7 linked regions of the Homo sapiens genome follow. The protein of the gene in region 4 interacts with the protein of the main gene of each other region in a pairwise test. Each region holds a gene or a part of one and is shown on either strand. Other genes may lie near its edges. The genes, in order: KIAA0232, FAM53C, LCP2, WNK1, HDAC9, TULP3 and EIF3A.

Region 1 (4,289 bases), on a different chromosome or scaffold from region 4:
AAACTAATGTAGGAATCTCACCTAAAGTTCTACTGTTTTGCTGGCAAGTTTCATCTTGCAAAAAATCTAGAAGTTCTTCATCTACATAATTTGACGAGACTCTAGGAACTACATAATTAATATCTTCGGCATTAAACTGTGTGGATTCTTCAAACTGAATATTTAATGTTTCATTGTCTGAACGTGTTTCTTCTGAATGGGACCATGGACTACAAGTTCTTGTTGAAAGATTAGAACAGTGTTCATTTTCTTCAAAGGCACTATTTTTGGTCCATATTAGCAATCTAGACTGTGTTTTCCCAAGCATATTAGCACTAGAATCTGTATTTTCATTTCCCAAGTTGAGTGTTTCAAAAGAAAATGGTAAAACAGAATTACTGCATTGCACTTCAAACACTGAAAAACAAGAGTTTATACCAGATCCTTCATTAATATCTGAAAAGAGCTCTTGATTGCCAGCAAGCAGGTGTGAATTGAGCACTGTGCTGTCTAAGATGGGAGAGAGTCTAACTGGAGAGTCTCCTCCAAAACTCTCCCCATCAGCATCACCGGAGCTGGATGAACAGCACTCCCAAAACTGAGCCAGATTGCCAAGGTCCTGCAGGAATAAGCCCTCAGCACCTACGGAGCTGGTAGAATCTGTCCATATTGCACGTTCCCCTTGCAACTCCATACCATCTAACACTATGCAACATTCTGCCTCAAAATCTGTGTTCTCTTTGCTTTTCTGTCGAATCATATTCAAAATCCGACTTTCTCCTTGCATTGTTTCTGAGGCACCAGGATCCAACATGGATTGATCAATATCCACTTCATAGAAGTGCGTTAATTCTGATAGATGAATATCATCCAGGTATTTATTGTCCTCTGGTAGAGAACATAATGAGGTCCCAGTGAGGTCAATATCCTCATTTATAACTGCAGGCATTTCTACAAAATGACCATCAATGAAAGTACCTGCTGCGAGGTATGTTTTATGAAGATTATTGTTGCTGATACAAAGACCATGCACTGATTCAGACAATTCTTCCACTGCCTCTGATGTCAGATCACTTGTATCCTGTCTGTTTCGGTATGTGGTCTCTAGTTTACTTTTTCTGCTCAGAGGAACAAAATATTCAGCAATTGGCTCGGTGTACCACAAGGGCTCCTCTTTATACTCTGTGTCCTTTCTATTCTCCATGTACAGGTCTTTTCCTTCAGTGCTCCCAGGATCTTTTCTCCCTATTTCTTTTAAAGGTCTCTTACCCCGCTTGCACAGCTGTTTGACAGAACCACTGCTGCTACTGCTACTACTTCCAGTATGAATGTTCCTTTCAGCCTTTTCACCGTGCTTCAAAGAAAGCCTGCTTTGCCCATTCCGCCCTTTTTTGTTTCGAATCTCTCGTGCCTTGTGTCTTACTTTAACATACTTCATGGATGCTTTTAATTCTCCCTGATTCCCACTGGAACTTGAGCCTGCTTCACTGGAGCCAGAAGACCACGAGCGAGGGCGAATCTTTCCTTCAGGTTTATGTCGGATTTGCTTTTTGTACAAAGCAGGCTTTTCTTCAATTGTGCCATTACTAAATTTGTTTTCCTTCTCGTTTTTGCTTTTGCTCTGGGTTTTCTCATGCACAGTGGTGGGTACTTCACTGCTTCTTTCCTTGGTGACTTCACTTTCACTGTTGCAGTCCTTAGGAGAGGAAGTATCTGTGCTAGCTGGTGGGGCTGTGGATGATGAAGAAGAGCTAGAGTAAGAACAGACTTTAGACTTGTTCCACACAGTCATGATTTCTTGCAGGCAAACTGGTTTCTCAGAAAGTGGTGGAAATGCTTCATAGTACCTGAAAAACAGAGTAAAGACTTCAAAACACGAGTATGCAGATTTTTTAGATACAGTAAAACAACATTACCAACCAGAAGAATGGAATATTTCATTTTAGTAGTGTCAACATTCACATCATCCAAGAATCATTAACTTTACAATAATTTATAATACAGTAAAATATGCTTAAGATTAGTCCCATGCATCAAGCACCATTTTGCTCAGCACTGTGATACGCACTGTAAGATTACTGAGAAAATATGTAAGATGACAGTTTTTATCTTCAAAGTTTGCATTTTAATTAAGAAGTCAAAAAGGACAAATAGTAGAAGAAAGAATGCAGTCTCTTCAGTAAGCATTATCTGAATTTGAATCTCAGCTAAGTCACTATTGCTTGCGACTTTAAGCTCATTATTTACTGCTTCAGACTATTTCCTCAACTGCAAAATGGTGATCCTATGACTTACCTCCCAAAGTTATTGTGAGCGTTGAAAATATATGCGGTTAAAAAGCTCGGTAGCAATCAGTCAAGAGTATGAGCTCTGAAGCCACATTCTCTGAGGTCAAATCCTGGCTCTGCCTGCTTTACTAGCTGTGTGACCTTAGGCATGTTACTTAACCTCTCCATAGCTCAGTTTCCTCACCTACAAAATAGAGCTAGTAATATTTACCTCTCAGGGTTGTGAGGAGTAAAGGAATTAATATGCAAAATGAGTTGGAACAGCAGCTTCTTACGTAACTGCTAGCATACTGCCTGGCATTGAAGCAGGCCCTCAGAAAGGGTAGGAATGATCACATTCAAGTATTCAGAAAGAGGATGTCGGTGAGGCCTACAACAATTAAAGTGGGCCACAACTGAGCCTTGAAATTCCAGATTTATTCCACAAGTTTAGTGAGTACTACCTGTGAGGCCTGAGAGCCTGTGTGAGGACACCAAGACACACATGTTATGCTCACAGAATGGAAAACTAACTAGAGCTGTGATCACCAGAAATGCAGCGTAGAAAAAGCCAGGGAGGCTGGTTTCAGGGGGCTTGAAAATGAGAAAGTATTTTTGATTTGCTAGGAAACTGGGGGCCACTGAAGATTTCAGAGCAGAACAGATTGCAAAGGGCAGAATTTAAAGTCACATTGGCTACTGGGGACTGTTGTTTCAGAGGCAATGCTCAAGGTCACACATGAAGTGGTAAAAGGCCATGTTTTCAAAGGGCCTGAACTTGATTCTCTTTCTCAGTCTATGTCAGAGTTGACCAACAGAAATATATTTTGAGCTTCATATGTAATTTTAAGTGTTCTAGTAGGCACATTAAAAACATAAGAAATAGGTGAAATGCACTCCAGTAATATATTTAACTAAACTCCTGATATTATCATTTCAACATGTAATCAATACTTTAAAATGTTTAATACTTTACTTTTTTTTATATATAGTCTTTGAAATCCAATGAGAATTGTCCACTGACAGCACATCACGGTTTGAACCAGCCCCATTTCAAGTGCTCAGTAGTCACACATGGCTTACAGCTTCTGTGCTGGATAATACAGGTCTATACAAACCAAGGAAATGCTATTTTTTTCTTAGGTTTCAGAGGTTCGAAAGATTAAAATAAAATGTATAATAGGGAAGTCTGTTTATAATGCAGATTATTTTAAGACTATTTACGAACAAAAAAATAAAAGTATCTTTAGGAAGCAGGTTTGGCAGGTCAAGGATTGCCTATGTTCCCTCTGCAGTAAACAGTGGGAACTCAGTGTTCTTGCTTGTGAACATGGATAATCATTTCTTTTCTTTCTTGTTTTTTTTTTTTTTTTTTTTTTTAATAAGACAGAGTCTCGCTCTGTCGTCCAGGCTGGAGTGCAATGGCACAGTCTCAGCTCACTGCAACCTCTGCCTCCCGGGTTCCAGAAATTCTCCTGCCTCGGTCTCCTGAGTAGCTGGGATTACAGGCATGTACCACCATGCTCAACTAATATTTGAGACTGGGTTTCACCATGTTGACCAGGCTGGTCTCAAACTCCTGACCTCAGGTGATCCACCTGCCTTGGCTTCCCAAAGTGCTGGGATTACTGACATGAGCCACTGTGCCCGGCTGATAATCCTAATTTCTCACAGCTGTCTCAAAGGGCTGTTGTGAATATTAAAGGTAATAGTACATACATAGACTTAGCAAATAATAACCTTCTATGTTTCACTCATTTGTTCCACAAATATTGAATATGAACACCAAGGACAGAACCATCTTGTTTCACCTTTGAATTCTCAGTGTCAAGCATATAAGCGCTCGATAAATGTTTCTTACATTATATATAATGAAACTAAACAAGATGACAAACAGAAAACGGAAACCATGTAGCAGTTATTCATCTGATTTTAACAAATGCACACTTTATTACCGAATACAATCTTACATACATTTCCACTTGATCCTTTGCTGGAGGGGATAATTCTGCCTCTGGAGAGGGAGACCCCTCTAACTTTTTG
Region 2 (4,289 bases), on a different chromosome or scaffold from region 4:
TTAAGGGTAGCAAATAAGTTTCAACTTGATTGCCAACTCTATTTTATTTCATATCTGGACTGCCAAGTTCATAATTTCTGAAGCTGTGTTTAGGCTTAGCTGGAAAGAGCTGTGATCAATTGATGTCTGCCAGAGGCCTGGCTTAGGGGTGCTGTGGTATGTGTGCCATGCATTTTCCATCTCTGGACCAGGTGCATCTCTAATATCACTTGGGGCTGGTCCCTCTAATTGGCAGACTCAGCAGGCATGACTGGAGAGGGAAGTCCCAATGGTGCTAGAATGGTGCTGCAGTGGCAGAAGACGGCTCACAAGTGAGGTCTGGAAGAACAACAGGGAAGACATCCATCATTTGCTCCAAAGTGTGCAAGTCAAATCCTGGGGAGAATCATGATAACCCTGATCACTGAGCAGCTACAGAAGCAGACTCTGGATGAGCTGAAATGCACACGCTTCAGCATCAGTCTGGTAAAAGACCAGTCTTCCTGCTTCTCCACGACCCCCTCCCCCTTTTTTCTGAGGCTGATTGTTGCTATTACTTTACTCTTGTCCTGTGCTGTATGAATCATGGTACTTAACCTGGAAGAGCCCACTAATGGCTCAAAACCCAGCCCAAAAGGAAGGGGGCAGGGATTTTTCCACCGATAGAGAAGGGACAGCAAAACTTGGGTGGAGAAGGGTTTGAGATGTTGGAAGATGTGGATTGTTTGACTTACTAACTTTGGGAAGACAAGAGGAAGAACACTTAATGTCCCTAACATCCCTGTAGCTCATGAATCGCAGAGGAGAACTGAAGAGGGCTTCCTAGAAATCTGTCAGTGTGTCCTGAATCCAAATCATGATGGATATTCTCTCTTTCTTAGCCTTTGCCTGATCATGCAGACATCTCCAACTGTGGGAACTCTTTCCAGCTTGTGTCTGGTAAGGCATCGTGTGTGTTTGTGTACGTGTGTGTACCCATTCCTCTCTCCACACATTTCTATCATTGGTTTCCAGTGACCAGGGCTAGCGAGCCTACCTCTAGAACCTTCTTGCCAGGGTCAACTTCTGAGATTGACAGTTGTCTTTCATGTTCTAGCATGAAAGTTATCTGGTTGGTTTGCTCTTATTCTAGCTTTGTGGGGACTTGTATAATCTAATTTTTTGAATAGGTAATACATTCACATGGTTCAAAATTTAAAAAATAACAACAAAAAGGTTATGCTGAGAAAAGTCTCTCTTACTCTCCCGTTCCCTATCTACCCAGCTTCTACCACCTCCCTAAAAGTATTAGTTTCTTATACAGTATATGTGACTAGAATTTCTTTATATAAAAAGAAGCAAATGTATATATTTATTTCCTTTCTTTTTTAAGTTCTCGGATACATGTGCAGAACGTGCAGGTTCGTTACATAGGTGTACATGTGCCATGGTGGTTAGCTGCATCTATTTTATTTCCACGTTTTTAACACAAAAGGTTGCATACTATATATTATTTTGTACCTTTAAAAAAAAAAATGGGACCGGGCCTAGTGGGTCACACCTATAATCCCAGCACTTTGGGAGGCCAAGGTGGGCAGATCACCTGAGGTCGGGAGTTCAAGACCAGCCTGACCAACATGGAGAAACCCCATCTCTACTAAAAATATAAAATTAGCCAGGCGTCGTGGCGCATGCCTGTAATCCCAGCTACTCGGGAGGCTGAGGCAGGAGAATCACTTGAACCCAGGAGGTAGAGGTTGCGGTGAGCCAAGATTGCGCCATTGCACTCTAGCCTGGGCAACAAGAGCAAAACTCTGTCTCAAAAAAAAAAAAAAATTGCTGGGCACAGTGGCTCATGCCTGTAATCCTAGCACTTTGGGAGGCCGAGGTGGGCGGATCATGAGGTCAGGAGTTCGAGACCAGCCTGGCCAACACAGTGAAACCCTGTCTCTACTAAAAATACAAAAATTAGCCTGGCATGGTGGTACACACCTGTAATCCCAGCTACTCGGGAGGGCAAGGCAGGAGAATCACTTGAACCCAGGAGGTGGAGGTTGTGGTGAGCCCAGATCATGCCACTGCACTCCAGCCTGCACAACAAAGCAAGACTCCATCTCAAAAAAAAAAAAAACAAAAAACAAAAAAAACTTTAATATAGCTAGGAGATCTTTCCCTATCAGAATGCTGAGTATTCATTCCCTTGTTATATATAGCTACATATTATTACACTGCATAGATGTACAGTGGCTTATTTAATGAGTTTTCTATTGATGTGCATTTAGGTTATTTCTAATCTTGTTTGGATACATAAAACTGTAGTGGGCCAGACGTGGTGACTCATGCCTGTAATCCCAGCACTTTGGGAGGCCGAGGTGGGCAGATAGCATGAAGCCAGGAGTTCGAGACCAGCCTGGCCAGCATGGTGAAACCCCGTCTCTATTAAAAATACAAAAATTAGCTGGGCATGGTGGCAGGCGCCTGTAATCCCAGCTACTCAGGAGGCTGAGGCAGGAGAATCCCTGGAATCCAGGAGGCGGAGGTTGCAGTGAGCCGAGATCGCACCCACTGCACTCCAGCTTGGGCAACAGAGCGAGATTCCATCTCAAAAAAAAAAAAAAGAAAGAAAAAAGAAACTGTAGTGAATAACCTTGTACATATGTCATTTTTTCACATGTGAAAATATATCTGAGGTATAAATTCGTAGATTATTAATTACTGAGTTAAAGGGCCCCTGATCGTAGGGACATTTAGATGGAGGCATCACTGGTGGACAATCAGAACTCCCTAACTCGTGCTGCTCAGCAGTTCTGCATCTCATTTTCTTTTCTGGGATACCTAGCAAGGGAAGTGAGTTGGCAAAAACATGTTCATTCAGTCTCTTCCTCCTGTTTATTAAAGACTTGCTGAAAGCCAGGTATTGTGTCATAAGTATAGAGCAGGAACTCATGGTCCCTGCCCTCATAGTGGTTAGTAGAGGGAAGAACTATAGACCAAATACACTCAGTATGAATTTTGCCACCATCAAGTCTGACTTCGTATACTTGTCGTTTGCCCCAAATATCCAGCCCCTGCAGAATTCCAGCCAGCTAGCCAGAGGAGTTTGGATTAGGCCCTTTGTCCCTTAATGAGCCGTCTCCCAAAAGTCACAATTTTGGTTGGAATACAGTGAGTGAGGATTGTTTCTTTTAGTCCATTTTCCCTTCCTTCTCTTGGTCCCTCCATCTGTTTGGATTTAAGAGAAGGCCTAGGGGAAGGGAATCGGAATATGTGGGTGGCCAGACAGAAACGAAGATGAGCAGCACAAAGTCAGGGTTTCCCAAGCCCAGGTTTCACTGTCAAAGGCCTTCCCCACCCTGTTTGCCCTCCCTAGGAATAAAAGTGATCTCTTACCTGCCTGATTACCTCTTACTTCTTGGCAGTCCTAACTCCTGACTTGGTGCTGTTGACACATGAGAGGAGGAAAGGCCGAGAAAGAAGAGCATAGGCCTGCTTTTCAGCATCCAGGGCAAGCGTGGGGGAGGGGCGAGGGAGAGATGAGCAGGACACTCACAAACGTGTTTGTTTCTCTTGACTTCTTTTACCTTTGAGAGGGAGTGGCAGGCAGTAGATGAAATGTTTTTGATTCCAGGTAGTTGGTCACAATGGAGGCAATAGAGCATAGTGGTTTAAAAACCTAGCCTTCGCATCAGACAGACCTGGATTTGAATCCTCCTTTGGTCTTTTGAGTGCTATGTGATTTTGGGAAAGTTATTGAATTTCTCTTATCTGTGAAATGGGGATAATGATAACGATACTACCTACCTCATAAGGTTTTTGGAAATTTTCACATAAAATGCTCCATACATTATGTGGCAAATGGTAAGTTCTTAAAAAATGTAAGCTATCATTAATATTATTCTTATTATAAATGCCTTCCAGAAGGTGCTTCCTGGAGGGGCCTGCCCCACTGTTCCTGTGCTGAGTTCCAGGACAGCCTCAACTTCAGCTACCATCCCTCAGGCCTGAGCCTGCACCTCAGACCACCCAGTCGGGGAAACTCCCCCAAGGAGCAGCCCTTCTCCCAAGTCCTAAGACCTGAGCCCCCAGATCCAGAGAAGCTTCCTGTGCCCCCTGCCCCTCCATCCAAGAGGCACTGCCGCTCACTCTCAGTGCCCGTGGACCTGTCTCGCTGGCAGCCGGTGTGGCGGCCCGCCCCCTCCAAGCTGTGGACTCCCATAAAGCACCGGGGCAGTGGTGGAGGGGGTGGGCCGCAGGTGCCTCACCAGAGCCCCCCAAAGCGGGTCTCCAGCCTCAGGTTCCTCCAAGCTCCCAGTGCCTCTTCTCAATGTGCC
Region 3 (4,289 bases), on a different chromosome or scaffold from region 4:
CACCTCAATTCCAGGAGGTCTGAAACATTTGTTTTCTTAATTTGCATTCAGAGTCATTTAGCTGGGGCTAAATAGAAGATATTTTGTGCGAACTGCTTTTTATCATGACACTGGTTGCAAAAATGCCTGTGAATAAGAGTTCCTTACAGTATGGAACCTCTTCAGGAAAGATACAGATACAATAATTTCTTCAGTTTAGCATAATAACCTGCTTGATTAAAAAAATGGGTTATTGAGCAGTTAAGTGACGAATCAAGGTCATAAACATAAAAAACAGGATTATTTTTCTTGCTGTTTAATGCAAAACACATGTTTGCCATTGAAAGCGTCTGAAAGAACGCCAAGGGAAAAGAACATATTGTTCATCTGGATCTTCTCCTTTAACTTTTTTTTCAAATAAATAAAATAAAACAAAGGGAAGATAAAAGTACAGAAGAACATTCAATGGGAGTTTCTGGTGATTCTTTTACCAGGGAAAAGGCAAACAAACAAAAATAAAAACATGCTCTCTTACCTCTTCCTCCGCGGGGGATGGGGGCCGAGGTTTGTTTGGAAGTGGCAAGGGGAAGTTTCTGCCTTCGGCTCTGATAGGTGGTCTGTTGCTAGGGCCTTCAAAAGTATAGAATTCTGACAGTTAATTTACTGTAAGCTATTGTTTGCTGCTATCAAAACACAAAACACATTCCCCCCACTCCCCCAAAAAAATACCCTTGCGATTGGTCCTATAGTTCGCATTTTAAGAAACAAGGGCTTCAAAAATAATTTTCATCTGTTTGAAACCATGGGGGCTGCTCAGGCATTATTCTGTAATCATGCCAGTAAAACTTTGAGAAGAGAACCTCAACTTTGAGTGATTTTTCTAAATGTGCATGTTACATAATATAAAGTGACTAGATCCCTTTATAAAAAAATTCGCAATTGTTTTAATGAATGTGAACGTCAAAATGAATGCTCAAGAGACAAATTTTTCATAGATTCTTATAATATCATCATAGGCAGAATGGATTCCCAACAGCTGATGTAGGGACAATGCAATGATGAAGATAATTATGTTCTTAATGTTTCCACAAAAAGAAATGTAAGTGACCCAAGAGAAGACAAAATTACCTTGAGAATATTGCTAGCTTTTAGAATCAAAGTTGGCTACCCGCTGTTCTAACTAAACAGGTAGACTGTTCAACTCACATAGAAGGCACTACAGATCAGGAAGTTTTTACTGGGCAACTATTAATTACCCAGTGCTTGTGCCTCATCTTCTCTAAAACTCTTTTTTCTCATTTACAGTTCCTTGAAACTTTAGGAGAATGTTTCCTAATCTCAGGAAAGGTTTAGTTGTGTTTATTGCAGTTGCCCAGGGTATTTTCTATGTGCCAGGCTGTGGTTAAAAACAGAAAAATTCTGTGAGTCAAATGTTCTCTTAATTATTTAACCATCATTCATTCATACCTTCAACAAATATTTATTCAGCACAACTCTGTCCAGATCTTGAGTAAGGTATCGTGTGTACATTTTTTTTAATCCTCACAGCAACATTACAAGGTAGGTATTGTCTTCATTTTGCATATGGGGAAATACAGGCTCAGAGGCTAAGCAAATCATGCGCTATCAGTGGCAAAGCCAAAACTTAAACCTGTGGTTACCAAATGCTACTGTGCATGAGTCAGAATCCCTGGGCGACTTGCGAGCACCTGGGGCTCAGAAATCTGCATGTTAGCAAGTACTTCCGGTGGTTCTACACCACGGATTGTCACTACGTCTACCTTGTTACACCACTGAGGAGAGGAGAGTCACCTGTAAGGGCTAAAGCCTCCTGAGCCGCATCATCAAGATTATTTATGATGGTCCTTCCCTGTTTTTAAACAAGTCTCCTGAGCCACATCAACAGGATTGTTTAAGATGCTCCTTCCCTGTTTCTAAACAAGCTGGCCCTGAGCTGCCAGTGCCTTCCTTCTCCAAGTTCCCAGTGCCTAGACAGATCTTCCCCATCCCCATTTTTTTTGCAGTCCAACACTTGCACTTTTATAATGCTTGTTGAATGAATGAAACCTAACAATACAGGAGAGTAACAGAACCAAGGCCCGCATTGCATGGCCATTCTACAGTTAAGAAATGATTCTCTTTCTGCCTCTGCACCTGCAGGCCAGCATCATAGAGTTCTAAGTTACAACAGAGAAGCACATACACTTTTTTATTGCAGTCACCTACCACCCTTAATATCTAGACTCTCAAGGGAGTCATGACAGGTTTTTGGGCAATGCACAGCACAAACTTTATCCTTCTGATGTTGGAACAACCAGTAGAACCAGTAGAGAAGACCGAGGACCAGGTGTCCTGGCAGTCTTAGGGGAAAAGAGATCAATTTGGATCAAGCTAATGTTCCAAAAATAATTAACTATTTGCATTAATAAGCCCCATCACAGACTCATAAAACTGGAGATCTGTGGAACTTGCTTTGGAAAATAATGCTGTGATGTGTCTGGGACTCAGATGGCTACAGAGGCAAGGAGGTAACACAAATGTGTGTTTGCAAAACACAGAGAATTTTGGGGATTGTGGAAAATTAGGGGTTGGGCGAGAAACTGTGAAAACCATGTGGTGAACGTGGACACCACCATAACCTCAAATGCTTAGAAAACATTGAAAACTTAGTGGGTGCCACTGGCGTCAGCAGTGGGATCTCGCCCCTCTATGGAATGATGCATCCAACTGAATACCCTAGATGTGTTCTTGGAAAAAATGTTGATTCTCAGGCTATCAACTCACATTTACTAACATAGTTTTCTACTGAACACACACTGGCCCGTGCACACACTGCATGTGGAACATGACTGCAAAAAAAGTGGCTTTTCTGTTGTCATTCTTCACAGCATTTTTTAAAAATTTAAGTCAACATTTAAAAATTAAATAATTTCACTTTTCTTGAGAAAAAAATTGGAAAATCTGGCAATGCTAAGCCAGTTTCCTGGAATGCTACTTACTAGAGTTGGGTAACTTTCCCTAGTCATTTGATGCTCATTCGACAAGCATTTTTAAAGTGCCTACCAAGTGCCTGTCACTTGCAAGTCTTTAAGGATAAAAAGCACAAATTAGTCCTGCCCCAGTGCCTTTCAAAGTGGTTCATGAACCAGCAGTCACAGCATCGCATGGAATATGTTAGAAATTCAGAAACTCAGGCCTCACCCCAGACCTCCTGAATTAGAATCTGCATGTTAACACAATTCCCAGGTGATCTATATGCACTTTCAAGTTGCAGAACACTCTAAGCGAATACTAATCATGGACGTCCAGAGGTGGTATTATTAAAAACACAGGTCCCTGACTTCACTCCGGACTTACTGAATCAGAATCTGTGACGTTAAGTTCTCTTAGTTTGTATTTTGAACATGCTCCCCAACTCACAACCATGGACAGATTGATCATGGAAATCTAAAACTGCAGAGAAAGGCAAACAGGATTCTGAGGATTCCGTAGGGAAACCGGAGCTGGAGGAATAGTTCTGCACAGGAAGATTGGGGATGAGGGCTGGCTTCCTGGTGAAGTGTGTGTAGGTGTGTCCATGTATGTATGTGTGTATGCATGTGCATGTGTGTGCATGTATTGTGTATGTGTATATATGTGTATACCTGTGTGCACATGTATATATGTGTACATGTGTATGCATGTGTGTGTGTGCATGTATATGTGCATGTGTGTATGGGCATGTATATGTATACGTGTGTGTGTATGTGTTGTGTTTTAGGTACTATCCTATCATTCCGACAGCCCTTGGCACACTGCAGACACGGAATTAAATGTTGAATGAGGAAATCAGATGCTTTTAGGAAACAATAAAACCTTTGTCGAAAGCTTTTGGGACAGGTTAGGGATCCAGTCATAAAGGCTTGATGGCTGAAGCACGTCACAAAAGCCCAGAGTACAAACCTTGAGAGAAGTATGGTGGCAGGGAGGCACTCTGTGGAAAACTGCTGTTACTGAGGAGACAGAAAAAGAACAAAATTTATTTGGATTGGGGTGATGGGGCCAGACAGGGGAGCTGGGTTAGGGAAGCCAGGCTGCAAATGCTTCTTGATTTGGTATCACTTTCCCTGCTGCCCCCAAAACCATGGGGGCTGGGCACAGGGACAGAACACAGCACACAGGGAATGGAACTACATTCCGCTGTGGACCATGCCAAAGTCTAACAAGCTTTATAAAGCAGAACAGCAACAACATTCAACTGTGTAAAGGGCACTTAACAGTTACTTTAAAAATTGGCTGCAACTTGAGCTCTTTGAGTTGGGAGAATACAG
Region 4 (4,289 bases):
GATATTGAGACAACTGCAGGTATTGTGATACTTGAAACTACGCTGGAAAGTACTGGTGATTCAGACACAGGTGGTATGGGGAGACCACCTGAAGTTACCACACCTGTGCTGGTGGCAACTCCAGCAATCCCCTCTTCAGTGGGCACTGTAACCTCAGACTGAATTACTGATGTGGAAATGTCATTAGGAGGGCTGCTTGTTGCAGGGACTGGTGCTGTGGCTGCTGCTGTGGTTGGGACTCCAGCAATGCTACTTAAGAAAGGAGGTACTACTGGAAATGTTGGTCCTGTATGACTAAAGTTTGGAGGTGCTGTGTTGGGTCCTTCTGTCATTTGGGCACGTCTAAGTTCAGAAAAGGCCTGTTGTAGACTAAGGGATGATGCAGAGTGAGACAAGTTCATTCCAGGGCTCTGAGCTGTAGAGGCAGCAACTGCAAAGGAATACAAAAAGATAAGAATCAGCTGATTTTAAAAGGATGGATTCAAAAGATTGTCTGCTAGCCTAAGTCAGCTCCTATAAATATCTGTTTTTGATAAAAAATATGGAGTAATCTTAAAACATAGACAACAGTACTAAGTGCAGAAATAAACACATACTACAATATCTATTATACAGACTATATCTTGGTATGGCCGTGCTTCTTGGCTTTTTCTGTAATTCTCTGTATTCTTCATCTATTTCCCTCTCCCATATGTTTATCTGTTGGTTATAACTTCAGTTTTCTATTCTTTTTTATTATCTGTGTCATCATAAATTACTGCTTTATGATTAAGCTTTCAACATAGCAGAGGCACTGTAGAATTTACATAACAATGTGGCAGAATCAATCCCTTACCTGTATCTGTTATTTCACTGGGGAAAACTTTTGATTCTCGTAATCGGCTTTCTGGCACAGGACTCACTATAAACCGCCTTCCCGCAGAATGAACAACTTGAGTTAAAGAACTGGTAGGAATGCCTGGTCAAAAACAAACAAACAAACGTAACTTAATAGCATTATTATTATAAATATTGTTAGACTTCATTATTGGCACATACAACTGCTTTTTTTGAGGCACGGTCTCATTCTCTCACCCAGGCTGGAGTGCAGTGGCGCGATCTCAGCTCACTGCAACCTCCGCCTCCTGGGTTCAAGCGATTCTCGTGCCTCGGCCTCCTGAGTAGCTGGGACTACAGAAGCCTGCCACCACCCTCGGCTAATGGCTTCTTAAGTCAAAGGTAAAAACAAGGAAAGAAAATAAATTCACCTATTTGCTGTGGCATGGAAGACGCAGGAATTGGTTGTTTGAACTCTCCTTCCAATTTCTACAACAAACAAAAGTGATTAAATACATTCTCAAATGCAATCTCAATGACTAGGCAAAGCAAACTGCCACATGTGAAGAGAACATAAAAGTTTGTTGTCGGTCATGGGTGTCAGGTGATATCACTGGACATTTTGCATAGCAAATTTAGAACTATGAAAATATTTTAAATCAACAAAGTTTCACTATGGGAGTGGTGAACCTACCTGAGAACCTGAAAAGCCATAGTCATCCTTTCCTTGTAGACTCTCCAATCCCTGATCACCCTCTGGTTCCACACTGACATCCTCACTGAGCATTTCATCAGCTTTTTCAATAATTTCTCGCACTTGATCCACAAACGACTCTCTCTCTATTGCTAGAATAAAGTCATTGTTCACCTGTAAAAGAAATGTGATGTCAGTCTAATTAGTGTCATTTCTCAAACTTTATGTCACTTTTATGACTTCTGTCCTATCTGCATACTTACCTATATTTTTATTTATTTTGTACTCAAGTTAGCTCTTCTCTTTTTAAGAACTTCAATATCTAGTTAGACATAGCCTAGACAAAAACATCACTAAATCACAGGTTGGGTGTGATAGTTTTATTCACATTGAAGTAAATGCATAACTTTAAAAAAACATGGATTATAAAATATGGCATATTTGCCTAGAGCAATGGCTATTAAGATCAAGTACTAAGGAAAAACCTAGAACTCCAAATGCAGACGTACCATAATTGTTGCTATCTCCTCGGGGTTGTCACCATCTAGGTCAAATTTGAATGTAACCATTTTCCTATTATGAGTCTCTAATTGACATTCTACTACTCGGTCTCCTTTATTTGAAACCTAAAAAGAAAAAAGGTACATCATCTCCAAAGACCATATTCAGCTTTATTACTGAATTTCAGAAAAGCAATGCAGATTAGCACTTGACTTTATGTCTAAGGAAGCATAGTGTTATCGCTGTTCCTTGGAGCACTAGTACTTTGTCTCTTAAACTGGTAGCAAGAAAAATCTTTGAGAAGACGTTAGCCTTTGAGCTACTTACTAAAACTCTCTATTCTTTTTCTAAAAGATAAGTAGTGCTTTATCATAGAAATATGGAATGTAAGAATATCATTTGGCTAATTATAAGATCCTATACATTCATCAATTCATCTAAGCCTTAAGAAATATTTAAATGATATTAACTGCTGGCCCTATCATAGCTTTATGAACTACCTTTTCATTTTTCTAAAAATGTGATATTTAAGTCAAAGAGACTGTGGGCATGAAATGAGAAGAGTACTATATAAATTATCTGGCTGGGTGCCTGTAATCCCAGTGGTTTGGGAGGCTGAGGCAGGTGAGTCACCTGAGGTCAGGAGTTTGAAACCAGCCTGACCAATATGGTGAAACCCTGTCTCTACTAAAAATACAAAAACTAGCCGTGCGTGGTGGCACGTGTCTGTAGTCCCAGCTACTTGGGAGGCTGAGGCAGGAGAATCGCTTGAACCCAGGAGGCACTGCAATCACAGTGAGAAGAGATCATGCCACTGCACTCCAGCCTGGGCGACAGAGCGAGACTCCGTCTAAAAAAAAAAAAAATTATCTGTCACACACAGATAGTTATCTTTATTTTATGAAGTGAGTGGTTTGGATTTGATGACCTCTAAAATCTTTTTCAGTGTCAAATTCCTTTAACAACATGAAACTCACAAATTAGGAATACTTACATTCAAAATTCTTAATTTTGGGCGTGAAGTTTTTTCATGTCGAGAGCGACTCCTTACAGATTTTCGGTAATGCCGTTTTGTAGTTCTTCCTTCATGCCTTCCACTGGAAGATGGGACGTTCTCATTGCCATCACTCATACCTGAAGCAACATCTGAATGTGCACTTTGAAATTTAAAAAGAAAAAAAAGTGCAGTTTATAATATGAGATTTAAAGGTCTGACAGTTTGGCGTTTCATACCGTCTTATTTACCAGTCAAGGAAGGAGAATTCTAGTTTTACGTACCTGTCTACAGAGGAAGCCAAAGTGGTCGGCTGGGTAGCTTGGGTCTGTGCTACTGCAACTGGCTCTGCAGGAGCAACCTGAGAGACTCCCTGAGTACTCTGTGAATCGAAAAGATAACTCAAATCTCGGTAGTAATAGATTTATCATTCACTATCCCCAATAATCTACTTATTTTTTTCCTTATCCCTCCCCACTACGTCCTAGAAGCACTAAATTTACTAGTAAATTCTCAATATTCAGCATCTAGAGATAATGGTCTTAAAATTCCAAAGGAAGTTGCTAAAGCTAGTCTCTGGTATAGACTGCATGGTATGAGGTCAGCCAACATATCTGCTAGGCAGTGTGAACCTACAACTTGCCATGCAGCCAGCATCTTACCAAGAGTGTGCAATAGCGCAGACAGAGCATAGTACAAAGATGAATTCAGATCTTCTCCTAGCAGGGCAAAAATGATTGCTGAGAGCACAGGAGGGTAAGATACTCTTATGACTGCCAATGGAAAAAGTTTGTGAAAGGACAAGAATAATGGCTAAAGTACTAGCTAGAGAAGTGAAGTGCTAATAGGGTTCATCTTCTCCAAGGCACACTCACTTCCCAACAGAACAGCCAGTGGAAACAAGGACCCCACATTGGCATTTCATTCTGCTGTAAGAAAAAGTCATGCAGAAGTTAGTTTGACATGGTCTCCAAATAAGTTCTAAACCAGGGGAGCCTGTTTCTTTCTCCTTTATCATTGTTGTCCAATTACATATATACGTTTTACATATAAACATGCAGTAATTCTATTTACCTCCAAAACTGCTTGCTGGGAGGATGTAGTGGGGGCTTGTGCTAAACTCCCTCCTGGCTGGGACACTTGAACCTGTCCTCCTACACCACCCATAGGAACTAAAAGATTTGATTCCACATAAGGCTGCACCACTGTGGGAAAGTACCCAGGTGTAGCCAGTACTTCTGTCGGCATGGGAGGGGATAGGACTGTAGAATGGATGCAAACAGA
Region 5 (4,289 bases), on a different chromosome or scaffold from region 4:
TGTATCTGGAAAAACTCTCTAAGAAAAATATTAAACTATTCCCAGAAGATTCAAAGTGAATCAATTAGTTTAAAAGTCCTGACAACTGAAATAGGCTCTTTCGGGAAGAAAGCAGTCACTGTATCATACTGTTACATGAAGGCCTAGAAGTGATTCCTTGTTCTGGACTCTTTGCCTTAAAATTTCCTAGTACTCAGCAGAGAAAATGGAATACTAGAGATCTCTTTGCCAAAGCAGAGCTAAACTTGAAATGTTATTGTCATACTAGCAGAAGATGGCAATAATTATTCTAGGCATATTCCCTGAAACAGTGTCAATTTTAGTTGTAAAAAATGTGTGGGCCTTATCCAGAATAATTCATCTCTGAAATGTTAGTTAATTAAATTGTATATATACAGGGGTCATATGATACATTAGGTTTAGAGAGAAATTTATTCCAACTCTCATCACCAGTTTGGCCAATCTTTACCTTCAAGTCTTCCACTGAGTTGAATGTGTCAAGTTCACTTGTATGTTCAACACATAGTTTCAATGCGTATTTTAAAATCAACCTAAGAGATATTATATCTGGTATTGTCAATAGACTATAATGTCATTTTATGTGGTACTGTGTTCTTATACCAATGAGGAAAAAACAAAATTTGGATGTTGTCTTATATCTGGGGATTATAAAAGAAAGCATTGAAAATACAGAATTCAGCTATGCTCTTAAAATTCCACATGAAACATTTGTAAATGAAAAACAAAAAAAGGAATTAGGAATGAAACTAAAAATAAATATTCATGGATAATATTTTACAGTTATCACTAATTAAAAAATATTTTTCCTTCTCTATTTCCTGTCTCTTCTAATGATAAGTAAATACCAACCCAAAAACTTCTTATGACACATGAATAGGCATTTTATTTTTACTTATTTTTGTATGTTCTAAGCCACTCCTCTCAATAACTCACACATGGACCACTTTTAATGTGGTCAGGGAAAATTTTTTCCCAAAGGACCAAGTACTAAAGCCAGACCAGTTAATGTTTCAGAGGTAATACGATTTGGTACCATTGGATGAATAAACCAATGTGGTTTGGATTAAAGTTTCATTTTTCTTTGCTTCCATTTTGGTGTGGATGAGGCCATCACAATTAATTTTTCAAGTTTAGCATTGCTTTGCCAACGGGATTTGTAGTACTCCATTTCTACATTGAATACTGGGAAATTTTAAGGAAAAGAGGCCAGGACAAGGAATCACTTCTAGATTAAACATTGCATTGACTTACTGTGTGACTCAGACAAACCACTTACCTCTTTGTCCTTCAGTTTCTCCATTGCTGAAAATTGCTTCGCCTCCCTGGTGCACAGCAATTTTGAAAGATGAAACATGAGTTTTGAAAAGAAACATGCCACATAATTTTGAGGTATTAGAGTCCTGCTTTTGTAATAGCAAAATGACCACCATTCATTAAATCCTTTGAATAGGATAATTCATTATTGCTATTGATGATATAATTATTATTGCCTTATTACTGTGTTATCATACATTTCAAGTTCTTAATAGCATTTTTTGTAGTTTATTATACAAAATATCTAGAGTGTCATTTTCAATATTTAGAGATTTGGGTATCTGTTATGAATTAATATAAAATGTTTAAATCAAATTTCTGCATATTTTTACCTCCTTTCATTGGGTTATTTTAAGAATTTAATTTAAAAAATTAAACATTGGACACTTACAGCTCTGTGAAATTATTAGAAGCCATGTAGAGAAAGGGTAAATTGTTCCTTTTGCTTGCAACTCCAAAATTACAGTCCATCTTATCTCCAGCTTCTTAATCCCCATGATATAGTCTTTGAATAAATTTTACCTCTCCAGTATGCCTTTAACTTAAACAGTGTATAAAATATTTTAGAAATGTACTTTCCACTTATTAAGCCTGAAATAAGCATTTTTTGTTTTTTTATTGACATATAAAAGGTACATATATTTGTGGTTTACAACATAATGATTTGACATATGTATACATCGTAGAGTGACTTAAGCTAATTAACATATGCATTGTCTCACATACTTATTTTTTATGGTGAGAACACTGAAAATCTATTCTCTGAGAAATTTTCACATGTACAATATATTGTTATTAACTGTAGTCATCATCATGTACAACAGATCTCTTGAATTTATTCTTTCCACCTAAAATTGTGTATGTAGCATCACTTCTGATTTTAATTATAAAACCTTTTTATGTTCAATACAATGACAATATTAAATTGTCTTCAGTGCTCCAACCCTATTTTTATTCCTTCTTTTTTGAACTGAGTTAGTTTAAAAAGTCCATTTTCCCTGCTCAGCCATTGGGTAAGATGGGGCTTTTGTTTTGGGAAGCTACAGCATAGGAAACTTGTCTAATGATTTAGAGACCCAGTGACCCACATGGATGAAAGAGGATTAACATCTTTGTTATTTCTCAACACAGGCTTCGAATTCACTCAAAGAAAAGCAGAAGTGTGAGACGCAGACGCTTAGGCAAGGTGTTCCTCTGCCTGGGCAGTATGGAGGCAGCATCCCGGCATCTTCCAGCCACCCTCATGTTACTTTAGAGGGAAAGCCACCCAACAGCAGCCACCAGGCTCTCCTGCAGCATTTATTATTGAAAGAACAAATGCGACAGCAAAAGCTTCTTGTAGCTGGTAATTCATTATGGCACCATTTGCAGGTCATTTTAGGGTTTTATTTTATTAGTGATCCAGGATAATGTCTCTTTTACTCAAGACCCTGATGGAGATCCACAGTGCTATACAAAAGTTTCCCTGATACCTGGTACTGTGGGAAAGGCTATCATCTTTATTTATTCCTTCAGATCCACTTGGGGTAGGAGGACTCACCTCATTTAACCTTTATTCATACCAGACTAGGCTGTGGTGAGTCGTATGGTCAGATGCGTACCTGTCCAATGCCTTGACATTTCTCTCTTCCCACACCTGACCTATTCTTCTGTTGTTTGCCTGGTAGCATCACTAATTCACTAATTTTCTTACAGTTTATACCATGTATCTGTTTTCTTTGGCTTCTTATCTTTTCTTAAAATTGTGTGTGTGTGTATGTGTGTGTGTGTGTGTGTGTGTATACACACATATACATGTATTTTTTTTTTCAGGTGGAGTTCCCTTACATCCTCAGTCTCCCTTGGCAACAAAAGAGAGAATTTCACCTGGCATTAGAGGTACCCACAAATTGCCCCGTCACAGACCCCTGAACCGAACCCAGTCTGCACCTTTGCCTCAGAGCACGTTGGCTCAGCTGGTCATTCAACAGCAACACCAGCAATTCTTGGAGAAGCAGAAGCAATACCAGCAGCAGATCCACATGAACAAAGTAAGCCTCCAAGCCAAGTCAAAATGTTCTAACCGCCAGTTTGGAAATTGGGTATCTCTTCACTGATATGGGTGTCTAAGAGGAATGTTGATGGGAGTCACAGCAAAAAGGATGTGATCATCCTAAGCCTGCTTTCTTGGCTCAAGGACACCATCACAATATCAGTGTTTTAACCACCATTATGTTCATAAGACATTTGTAGCAAAATTGAGATGATACATTCACAAGATCTTTTTATGATCAGGTATATATTTTGGTACACAAGCCCATACGGGCATATGTATATGGAGCCTCATTTTTTAGTGTTGCAGAAAAAGTTTGAGGCAGACTTGAATGTGGTGTGTTGACATGTCAAAAAGTTTGTACAGGTGATGACAGATAGGCCAAGATTAGCCAGTAAGGCACTTCTCAGCAACTTGTATGCATCTACGTTACATTTATTTTGCGAATGCCCCACTTCATTCCAATAAGCGTTTGGAGTAGTTTCTCGGAAACTTGTGATCATTTCTTCCTGGAAGTCTTAATGTTGCTAAAATAGACAGCGGATGTCTGTACCGTACCACATCCTTAGGAGCTCTCCTGCTGAGGCAACTACAAAGAAACAGTGATTGCAGCATAATATCAGACAGGCCAGTAAAGGATTTTCTATGAATTCGTAAGCAAAATGATATTAAAGAACCTGGTCTGGACAGTTTTTCCACTACTTTTTGCTGTGGTAGGCTTAAAAAAGCACCATCTTCTCATTCCTGGAAAATTCCTGGAAAATATTAAGGTCCTGAGTATTAAAATTCTATTCCCTTGCCTTTGTGCTGTATCATCTACAAGTTATGTTACAGAGGCATGAGAGGCATGATATTGCAAACTGATACTTTGTTTACTGATAAATGGATAGCTAAAACCTGGCTTAGTAATAACTTTGTTGTA
Region 6 (4,289 bases), 2.0 Mb from region 4:
CAGATCACCTGAGGTTGGGAGTTCGAGGCCAGCCTGACCAACATGGAGAAACCCCGTCTCTACTAAAAATAAAAAATTAACCGGATGTGGTGGCACATGCCTGTAATCCCAGCTACTCGAGAAGCTGAGGCAGGAGAATCGCTTGAACCTAGGAGGCGGAGGTTGCGGTGAGCCCAGATTGCACCATTGCACTCCACCCTGGGCAACGAGAGCGAAACTCCATCTCAAAAAAAATAAATAAATAAAATAAAAAGAAAATGCTGAGGGGAATAAAACTGCTGTAAAGAATAATGCATCATTGAATTTTTTTTTTACTGTGGTAAAATATGCATCGTAACATAGAAGTTACCAGTGTTGGCCTGGCATGTTGGCTCACACCTGTAATCCCAGCACTTTGTGAGGCCAAGGTGGGCAGATCACCTGAGGTCAGGAGTTTGAGACCAGCCTGACCAACATGGTGAAACCCTGTCTCTACTAAAAATACAAAAAAATTAGCTGGGCTTCGTGGCGCACACCTGTAATCCCAGCTACCGGGGAGGCTGAGACAAGAGAATTGCTTGAACCCAGGAGACGGAGGTTGCAGTGAGCTGAGATGGTGCCACTGCACTCCAGCCTGGGCAACAGAGTGAGACTCCATCTCAAAAAATCATAATAATTTACCAGTGCTGCAGCTCTTTTTAGAATTTGTCTAGCAAGTTTTCCTGTTTTTACTGAAGCCTTCCCTTCCCTTCCAAATAACAAAAAGTACACTTTTTTTTTTTTTAAGAGTTCGGGTGGGCCGAGACGGGCGGATCACGAGGTCAGGAGATAGAGACCATCCTGGCTGACACGGTGAAACCCCGTCTCTACTAAAAATACAAAAATTAGCCGGGCATGGTGGCGCGCGCCTGTAGTCCCAGCTACTTGGGAGGCTGAGGCAGGAGAGTGGCGTGAACCCGGGAGGCGGAGCTTGCAGTGAGTCGAGATCGCGCCACTGCGCTCCAGCCTGGGCGACAGAGCGAGACTCCGTCTCAAAAAAAAAAAGAGTTCGGGTGTAATTCTGTCACCCAGGCTGGGGTGCAGTGGCACAAGCATAGCTCACTTTAGCCTCAAAATCCTGGGCTTAAGTGATCCAACCACCTCAGCTAGCTAGGACTACAGACACACAGGTACCATCGTGACCAGCTAATTTTTTTAAAAAAACTTTTTATGGAGACAGGTCTCAAACTGGTGGCCTCAAGCAGTCCTTCTGCCTCAGCCTCCCAAAGTGCTAGGAGTTCAAGCACGAGCCACTGTGCCCTGCCTAAATTTTTTTTGTTTTGTTTTTTTGAGACAGAGTCTCTGTCTCCCAGGCTATAGTACAGTGGCACAGTCTCGGCTCGCTGCAAGCTCCGCCTCCCAGGTTCAAGCGATTCTCCTGCCTCAGCCTCCTGAGTAGCTGGGACTACAGGTGCGTGCCACCACACCCGGCTAATTTTTTGTATTTTAGTAGAGATGGGGTTTCACCATGTTAGCCAGGATGGTCTCAATCTCCTGACTTCGTGATCTGCCCACCTCAGCCTCCCAAAGTGCTGGGATTACAGGCATGAGCCACCGCGCCCAGCCTGCCCTGCCTAAAATTTACAACTTTAATCAATTTTAAGTGTGAGATTCAGTGACATTAAGTGTATTAACAATGTTGTGCAACCATCACTACCATCCATCTCCAGAACTTTTTCATCATCCCAGAGACTTCACACCCATTCAAGATAATTCCTCATTCTCCCCTGCCCCCAGCCCCTAGTAACCTCTATTCTACTTTCTGTCTCTATGAATTTGCCTGTTTTATGTATTTGGACAAAATAGTTGTGTTTACGGTCAGAATAGTTAAGAATGTTTTAAGCAAGAAAATTAAAACTATCTTTGTTTCAAAGACCTTTTTTAAACAGTGTTGGCAGTGCTAACAGTTCTTCCTTTTCTGCTAGATATCTCTGAAAGTGTGAACTTCGATGAGGAGACTGATGGAATATCCCAGTCAGCATGTTTAGAAAGACCCAATTCTGCATCAAGCCAGAATTCAACCGTATGTAGTTCTGAAACTTCTTCCATTAGAGCTAATTTGACTCTTTCTCAAACATATCTTCAGTATTTATTTATTTATTATTATTATGTATTTTTTGAGGTGGAGTCTCGCTCTGTCACCCAGGCTGGAGTGCAGTGGCATGATCTCAGCTCACTGCAAACTCCGCCTCCCGGGTTCACGCCATTCTCCTGCCTCAATCTCCCGAGTAGCTGGGACTACAGGCGCCCGCCATGACACCCGGCTAATTTTTTGTATTTTTAGTAGAGACAGGGTTTCACCATGTTTGCCAGGATGGTCTCGATCTCCTGACCTCGTGATCCGCCCGCCTCAGCCTCCCAAAGTGCTGGGATTACAGGCATGAGCCACCGTGCCCAGCCCTCAAACATATCTTCAGTATTTAAATACCATTACTGAGTGAGGGTTCCTTCAGAAGTGTAAGCTCAAATTTAGTTTATGATCTAATTTTTTCTGTCTCAGGTCAGCTATTGTGAGGCTTTGTCCCATTTTGATACTTACTCTTCATTACTCTCAATATTCATATACTTAATTTAACTTTTCAGTTTTCCTCATTCTGTCAGAAGACTGAAGACACGGGTAAATTACTAAGTTGCTTTGTCCACTAAGTGTTTTTCAAAGAGAATCAGATTTTGAGTCTCGGCCTGTTGTTGCTCATGTATGGCTGTCCTTTCAGGATACAGGCACTTCCGGTTCTGCTACTGCCGCCCAACCAGCTGATAACCTCCTGGGAGACATAGACGACCTGGAGGACTTTGTGTATAGTCCTGCCCCTCAAGGTGTCACAGTAAGATGTCGGATAATCCGGGATAAAAGGGGAATGGATCGGGGTCTCTTCCCCACCTACTATATGTACTTGGAAAAAGAAGAAAATCAGAAGGTATGAGAATTGATTTCTAAGAAAACTCTTGAGAGAGAGAAGAATGTTGTGGGAATAGATTGTTGATGGGCCTTAGGGAACTAACTCTGGTATTAGACCAAGCCAGCTGGAAGTAGATTGTATCTTTCAGTCCCCAGATGCTGTGTTCTCATTTTCTGCAAAGAGCTCATGGTCTAATAGGCAGCAAGCTCTACCCTCCCACAAATAAGAGCTTTATCCACGAAGTGGGAAAATGGACGGGTAGTTGTTAATGTAATTATTTTCACCTGTCTCCCATGATTGAGTTTTTGAATGTTACTGTTTGTTCTTTTGGTTTTTCTTTTTATTACGGAAGAACATGACATTGTGGAAGGAGAGTGAGTTTTAGGGAATAGGAGGAATTAGAAATACAGAAGGACCTACAAGTTAAATGTCTTGTTTCTCACCCTAGAAGTTCTAATTTATTTTATAAGTTTGAGCCAGCGATGAACTTTATTTTATTAATTTTGTATTAATACCAGGTCTTAACAGATGATTTTAAGAGCCTAGAAATAAGATAATGATACTAGGTGTTAATTCTTCTAACCACCATTTATTGAGTGTTTACGACAGACCAAGCATATGCATATATATCTATATATATTATCACCTGTAATCCTTGCAGCCACCTTGTTAGGTAGGATTTCTTACCTCTGCTTTAAAGATGAGGTAACTGGGGCTTAGGGAGTGACTTACCTACCCCACGTTGCACTAAGTGGTGGCAGAGCCAAATTCAAACCTATTTTGCATAATTCTAAAGTCTTCCTGCTTAGCCACTGCCACTCTCCTGCTTCCCTATTATGGTCCTAGTCTAGGAGAGTTTAGGAAGGATGCCTATATAGGATGGTATTCATGCCATTGAGGTCACAGTGGTTTAACACAACAGCAGTATAGAAAAAAGAGTATTTCCTCCCTGGAGAGGCTTCCCTTTTGTCCCTTCTTGCCCTTTGCCTAATCAGAGTCTTTCCTGATGTGCTTCACCAGATGTGGTTGACATTCCTCTGTCTGTGTCCCCATGGCATGAAGAAAGCTATCACAGGCCAGGTGCGGTGGCTCACACGTATGATCCCAGCACTTCGGGAGGCTGAGGCAGGTGGATCCCTTGAGGACATGAGCTCGAGACCAGCTTGGCTAACATGGGGAGACCCTGCCTCTAGCAAAAAATTAAAAAATTAGCCAGGAGTGGTGGCATGCACCTGTAGTTCCAGCTACTCGGGAGGCTGAGGCAGGAAAATCACTTGAACCTGGGAGGCAGAGGTTGCAGTGAGCTGTGATTGCACCACTGCACTCTAGCCTGGGTGACAGAGTGAGACCCTATCTCAAAAAAAAAAAAAA
Region 7 (4,289 bases), on a different chromosome or scaffold from region 4:
GCTTTTGTTTTTTGGCTGAACACTGTCTTTGGGCATTTTTCCTTGTTAGTAATGTAGGGCTACCTTATTCCATTTAAGGTACTGTGGTGTATTTATTCAGACTCTCTTGATGAAAACCTGTATTCCTAGATTTTTTTTTTCCCTGTTAGAAATCTTGTAGCATTGAGCATCTTTCATACATGTATCTTTGCATACTTCTATTACTTTCTGTGGCATAAGAAGTGGAATTAGTCATAGGGTTTATGGATTTAAAGCTTTAATAGCTATTCAGAAGCCTGGATTAATAGACCCCCCACCATGAGTGAATGAGACAGCCTTTTCATATATTTTAGTCCAGGGGCTTAAGTCAGTAAGTGCTCCCATTTTGTTTTCCATTTGTTGCATTTGGGAAGGAGGGCGTTTTATTATATTTTCATCTCAGTATTTGTGCACATTTCATTGACCTGCTTTCTTTTATGTGAGTAGTGTTATTTCTTATGTGCTATACAAATAATTGAAGGCTAATTAGCAGTATAACTATAAATAGTAATGCTGCCAGTCTCCTTCAGACAAAAATTCTATAAGAAGTGTTTAAATATATTCGGTAAGTAGCAGGTTTTTAGGCTTTTTTGTTTTACAACAACTAGGATTTGAAAAGATTATAGGTTTGAGGAATAGTATGATAATGGTTCTCAAAGCATGGAGTTTAGAGTCGATGGTCTGGGATTAGCATTCTGGCTTTAACAATGTACTGCTAACATAAATTCTCTGGCATAATTTCTACTTCCCATGACTGTCATGAGATTGCACATAAAAAGTGCTGAATAAACAGTGGCTAGTGTTATTAACCCTTTGTTTTCTATGCAGGTGTCACAGATTTATCAGAGCATTGAGTTTTCTCGTTTGACTTCTTTGGTTCCTTTTGTTGATGCTTTCCAACTGGAACGGGCCATAGTAGATGCAGCCAGGCATTGCGACTTGCAGGTAGGTATGTGCTGTAAGGAGACAGGAGAAGGCCCTTGAGGGCTAGAAAGACACATACCTTCTGTTTCTCAGCTTTTGGTACAGTGATACCATTTTAAAGTTTACTGAGTGAACTTTTCCAGCTTTTGTATATGACATTCTTCTGTTACTTTTTGACTTCATGCTTACTTGTGGATTTAACCATTGATAATTTAATTTTCAAAGGTTCGTATTGATCACACTTCTCGGACCCTGAGTTTTGGATCTGATTTGAATTATGCTACTCGAGAAGATGCTCCGATTGGTCCTCATTTGCAAAGCATGCCTTCAGAGCAGATAAGAAACCAGCTGACAGCCATGTCCTCAGTACTTGCAAAAGCACTTGAAGTCATTAAACCAGCTCATATACTGGTATGCATCTTCCCGGGGAAATAAATCCCAGAAGTTTTGAGGGACTCTTAACGCCATGCCATGTCTTTTACAAAAAGGTTTGAGACAATATCTGAGAGAAGGGATTTATGATATGTTTCCTATAGAATTGTACTTGGTAGTTTTGTTATTTGATCAAATACACAAATCATTGAGCTTTCTTCCATTGAACAAAATACTACTCTGTGTAGGTAATGTAATAGGGTGGATTATGTTACAGAAACAACAGAGTGGACATAGGATTCCTCAAATAGTGAAATACAGTGACTGGATTTTTCCCTCCTGCTTAAGTTATTTCTTTTTTTTCTTTTTTGAGATGGAGTCTCACTCTCACCCAGGCTGGAGTGCAGTGATGCCATCTCGGCTCATTGCAATCTCTACCTCCTGGGTTCAAGCAATTCTTGTGCCTCAGCCTCCTGTGTAGCTGGGACTACAGGCACGTACCACGTGCACAGCTAATGTTTTGTATTTTTAGTAGAGATGGGGTTTCACCATGTTGGCCATGCTGGTCTCAAAGTCCTGGCCTCAAGTGATCCACCCGCCTTGGCCTCCCAAAAGTGATGGGGTTACACGCATGAGCCACTGCCTGTAACAAGTTATTTCTTGTATGTGAGCTCTGTTAATGAACACCTAAGGTAGGTTTGGTGCAGAGAAAAGTTGTCTTATCTAGGAGAGCTTCTTTAGCTGCGTCATTGCTATTAAAAGACTGAATAGGAGCAACACCATAGCATTTAATACCGAAAACAAACAGCTTGGATAGTGTCATCTTCCATTATCAAATGCAGATACATAGAAAGGCAGTACATCAGGATTATTTTGTAATTTCTTTGATGCCTAATACCAGAGAATGTTAATTTTGGTCATGTAAAAAAATTCATTTGTTTTTGAAGCAAGAGAAAGAAGAACAGCATCAGTTGGCTGTCACTGCATACCTTAAAAATTCACGAAAAGAGCACCAGCGGATCCTGGCTCGCCGCCAGACAATTGAGGAGAGAAAAGAGCGCCTTGAGAGTCTGAATATTCAGCGTGAGAAAGAAGAATTGGAACAGAGGGAAGCTGAACTCCAGAAAGTGCGGAAGGCTGAGGAAGAGAGGCTGCGCCAGGAAGCAAAGGAGAGAGAGAAGGAGCGTATCTTACAGGAACATGAACAAATCAAAAAGAAAACTGTCCGAGAGCGTTTGGAGCAGATCAAGAAAACAGAACTGGGTGCCAAAGCATTCAAAGATATTGATATTGAAGTACGTAGCATCTTAGTTATTAAAAAATTAGTTTTATCCAGGTATTTTGTACTCTTAGAACCACAGTCCTTTACCATTTGTTGGCTTACTGGGTTATTTCATGCATTTTGGTACAGCTGGTCATGACTAAATCTGTGAGTAAGCATATGTTTATTGCTCTGTGAAGTTTTGTGTTTTTTTTGAGACGGAGTATTATCTTGTCGCCCAGGCTGGAGTGCAGTGACGTGATCTCAGCTCACTGCAACCTCCGCCTCCCGGGTTCAAGTGATTCTCCTGCCTCAGCCTCCCAACTAGCTGGGATTACAGGCGCCTGCCACCATACCTGGCTAATTTTTGTATTTTTAGTAGAGACAGGGTTTCACCATGTTGGCCAGGCTGGTCTTGAACTCCTGACCTCAAGTGATCTACTTGCCTCAGCCTCCCAAATTGCTGGGGTTATAGGTGTGAGCCACCACACATGACCTGTTTCATAGACACCTTATACACATAGCCTGAAGGTAATTTTGTACACTATTTTACATAATTTTGTGCATGAAACAAAGTTTTGAATGCATTTTGACTGACCTGTCACATGGGTCAGGTGTGGAATTTTACACTTGTGGCACCATGTTGGTGCTCAGAAAGTTTTAAAATTGGGAGCATTTCAGATTTTGGGTTTTTGGATTAGGTTTGCTTACCCTATTTAGTAGAGTCTGGGTAGATGTAGGTTGGAGTAGTGAGAAAAGGATGTATGGATATTTTTTTCCTTATGGTCAAATGGAAATAAGGCTATTGTATAATATTTTTACATTTCCTAAATTATCACCCATTGTAACAATAAAAGCAATGTAGGATTTTATTCTAGAAAGCAGTGAGTTATGTTAGGCATTGCTTGTTTCTCTTTATTAACAATTGTGCATTTGTATTACCTTTCAGGACCTTGAGGAATTGGATCCAGATTTTATCATGGCTAAACAGGTTGAACAACTGGAGAAAGAAAAGAAAGAACTTCAAGAACGCCTAAAGAATCAAGAAAAGAAGGTAAATGAAAGGGTTGGTAAACCTTTAACATACCAAGTTAAGAGAGATTTTTTAAAACTACGTGTGTTTTCGTGTCATTCAGATTGACTATTTTGAAAGAGCCAAACGTTTGGAAGAAATTCCTTTGATAAAGAGCGCTTACGAGGAACAGAGAATTAAAGACATGGATCTGTGGGAGCAACAAGAGGAAGAAAGAGTAAGTTTTTTATTTAATTGTAATATTTTTAGATTGTAATAAAATCCTCTGCCAGTAATGGAACCAAGGATTCAGAATTGCTTTATTTTGTATTCTTCTGCTAGAAATGGTGCTCTAATGGCTGCCTATGAACAGATTGGTAGAAAGAGGGAAAATTTCACAATAGAGATTACAAACGAAACTTGGAAAACAAAGGACAACTGAAAAGCCCATTTTATAAAAAACTGCTTTATATACACTTTAAATGGGTAAATTGTATGGCATGTTTATACATCTCATAGTTTTCATTTTACTTGCAGAATTGTGCAGCCATCTCCACAATCTAATTTTAAAACACGTCTCAAAAAGAAGTTCTAAACCCATTAGCAGTAGTCATCCCTATTCTTCCCCACCACCCCAGCCCTAGGCAACCGCTAAACTACTCCTTTCTCTAGATTTGCTGATTCTGGACATTTTATATAAAT

What was found.
Region 1: the proteins of WNK1 (region 4) and KIAA0232 interact in a two-hybrid assay, tested with the Homo sapiens proteins (one large-scale study listed by IntAct).
Region 2: the proteins of WNK1 (region 4) and FAM53C interact in a two-hybrid assay, tested with the Homo sapiens proteins (one large-scale study listed by IntAct).
Region 3: the proteins of WNK1 (region 4) and LCP2 interact in a two-hybrid assay, tested with the Homo sapiens proteins (one large-scale study listed by IntAct).
Region 5: the proteins of WNK1 (region 4) and HDAC9 interact in a two-hybrid assay, tested with the Homo sapiens proteins (one large-scale study listed by IntAct).
Region 6: the proteins of WNK1 (region 4) and TULP3 interact in a two-hybrid assay, tested with the Homo sapiens proteins (one large-scale study listed by BioGRID and IntAct).
Region 7: the proteins of WNK1 (region 4) and EIF3A interact in a two-hybrid assay, tested with the Homo sapiens proteins (one large-scale study listed by IntAct).

The regions. Positions count from the first base shown.
Region 1 is NC_000004.12:6,858,438-6,862,726, reverse strand, and holds part of KIAA0232 (uncharacterized protein KIAA0232), read right to left. Parts: coding exon 4,221-4,289; intron 1,827-4,220; coding exon 1-1,826.
Region 2 is NC_000005.10:138,340,949-138,345,237, forward strand, and holds part of FAM53C (protein FAM53C), read left to right. Parts: intron 1-235; 5' UTR 236-268; coding exon of another isoform or gene 269-316; 5' UTR 317-387; coding exon 388-465; intron 466-860; coding exon 861-918; intron 919-3,876; coding exon 3,877-4,289.
Region 3 is NC_000005.10:170,252,605-170,256,893, forward strand, and holds part of LCP2 (lymphocyte cytosolic protein 2), read right to left. Parts: intron 3,972-4,289; coding exon 3,922-3,971; intron 610-3,921; coding exon 515-609; intron 1-514. UniProt on the Homo sapiens protein: Adapter protein primarily involved in signaling pathways within T-cells, as well as other immune cells such as platelets, mast cells, and natural killer (NK) cells.
Region 4 is NC_000012.12:880,790-885,078, reverse strand, and holds part of WNK1 (serine/threonine-protein kinase WNK1), read right to left. Parts: coding exon 4,080-4,289; intron 3,388-4,079; coding exon 3,290-3,387; intron 3,169-3,289; coding exon 3,006-3,168; intron 2,137-3,005; coding exon 2,020-2,136; intron 1,685-2,019; coding exon 1,511-1,684; intron 1,306-1,510; coding exon 1,248-1,305; intron 959-1,247; coding exon 836-958; intron 431-835; coding exon 1-430. UniProt on the Homo sapiens protein: Serine/threonine-protein kinase component of the WNK1-SPAK/OSR1 kinase cascade, which acts as a key regulator of blood pressure and regulatory volume increase by promoting ion influx.
Region 5 is NC_000007.14:18,645,319-18,649,607, forward strand, and holds part of HDAC9 (histone deacetylase 9), read left to right. Parts: intron 1-2,466; coding exon 2,467-2,680; intron 2,681-3,147; coding exon 3,148-3,365; intron 3,366-4,289. UniProt on the Homo sapiens protein: Responsible for the deacetylation of lysine residues on the N-terminal part of the core histones (H2A, H2B, H3 and H4).
Region 6 is NC_000012.12:2,928,305-2,932,593, forward strand, and holds part of TULP3 (tubby-related protein 3), read left to right. Parts: intron 1-660; exon of another isoform or gene 661-721; intron 722-1,943; coding exon 1,944-2,041; intron 2,042-2,732; coding exon 2,733-2,936; intron 2,937-4,289. UniProt on the Homo sapiens protein: Negative regulator of the Shh signaling transduction pathway: recruited to primary cilia via association with the IFT complex A (IFT-A) and is required for recruitment of G protein-coupled receptor GPR161 to cilia, a promoter of PKA-dependent basal repression machinery in Shh signaling.
Region 7 is NC_000010.11:119,056,276-119,060,564, reverse strand, and holds part of EIF3A (eukaryotic translation initiation factor 3 subunit A), read left to right. Parts: intron 1-426; exon of another isoform or gene 427-554; intron 555-846; coding exon 847-963; intron 964-1,167; coding exon 1,168-1,353; intron 1,354-2,261; coding exon 2,262-2,609; intron 2,610-3,524; coding exon 3,525-3,629; intron 3,630-3,711; coding exon 3,712-3,825; intron 3,826-4,289. UniProt on the Homo sapiens protein: RNA-binding component of the eukaryotic translation initiation factor 3 (eIF-3) complex, which is required for several steps in the initiation of protein synthesis.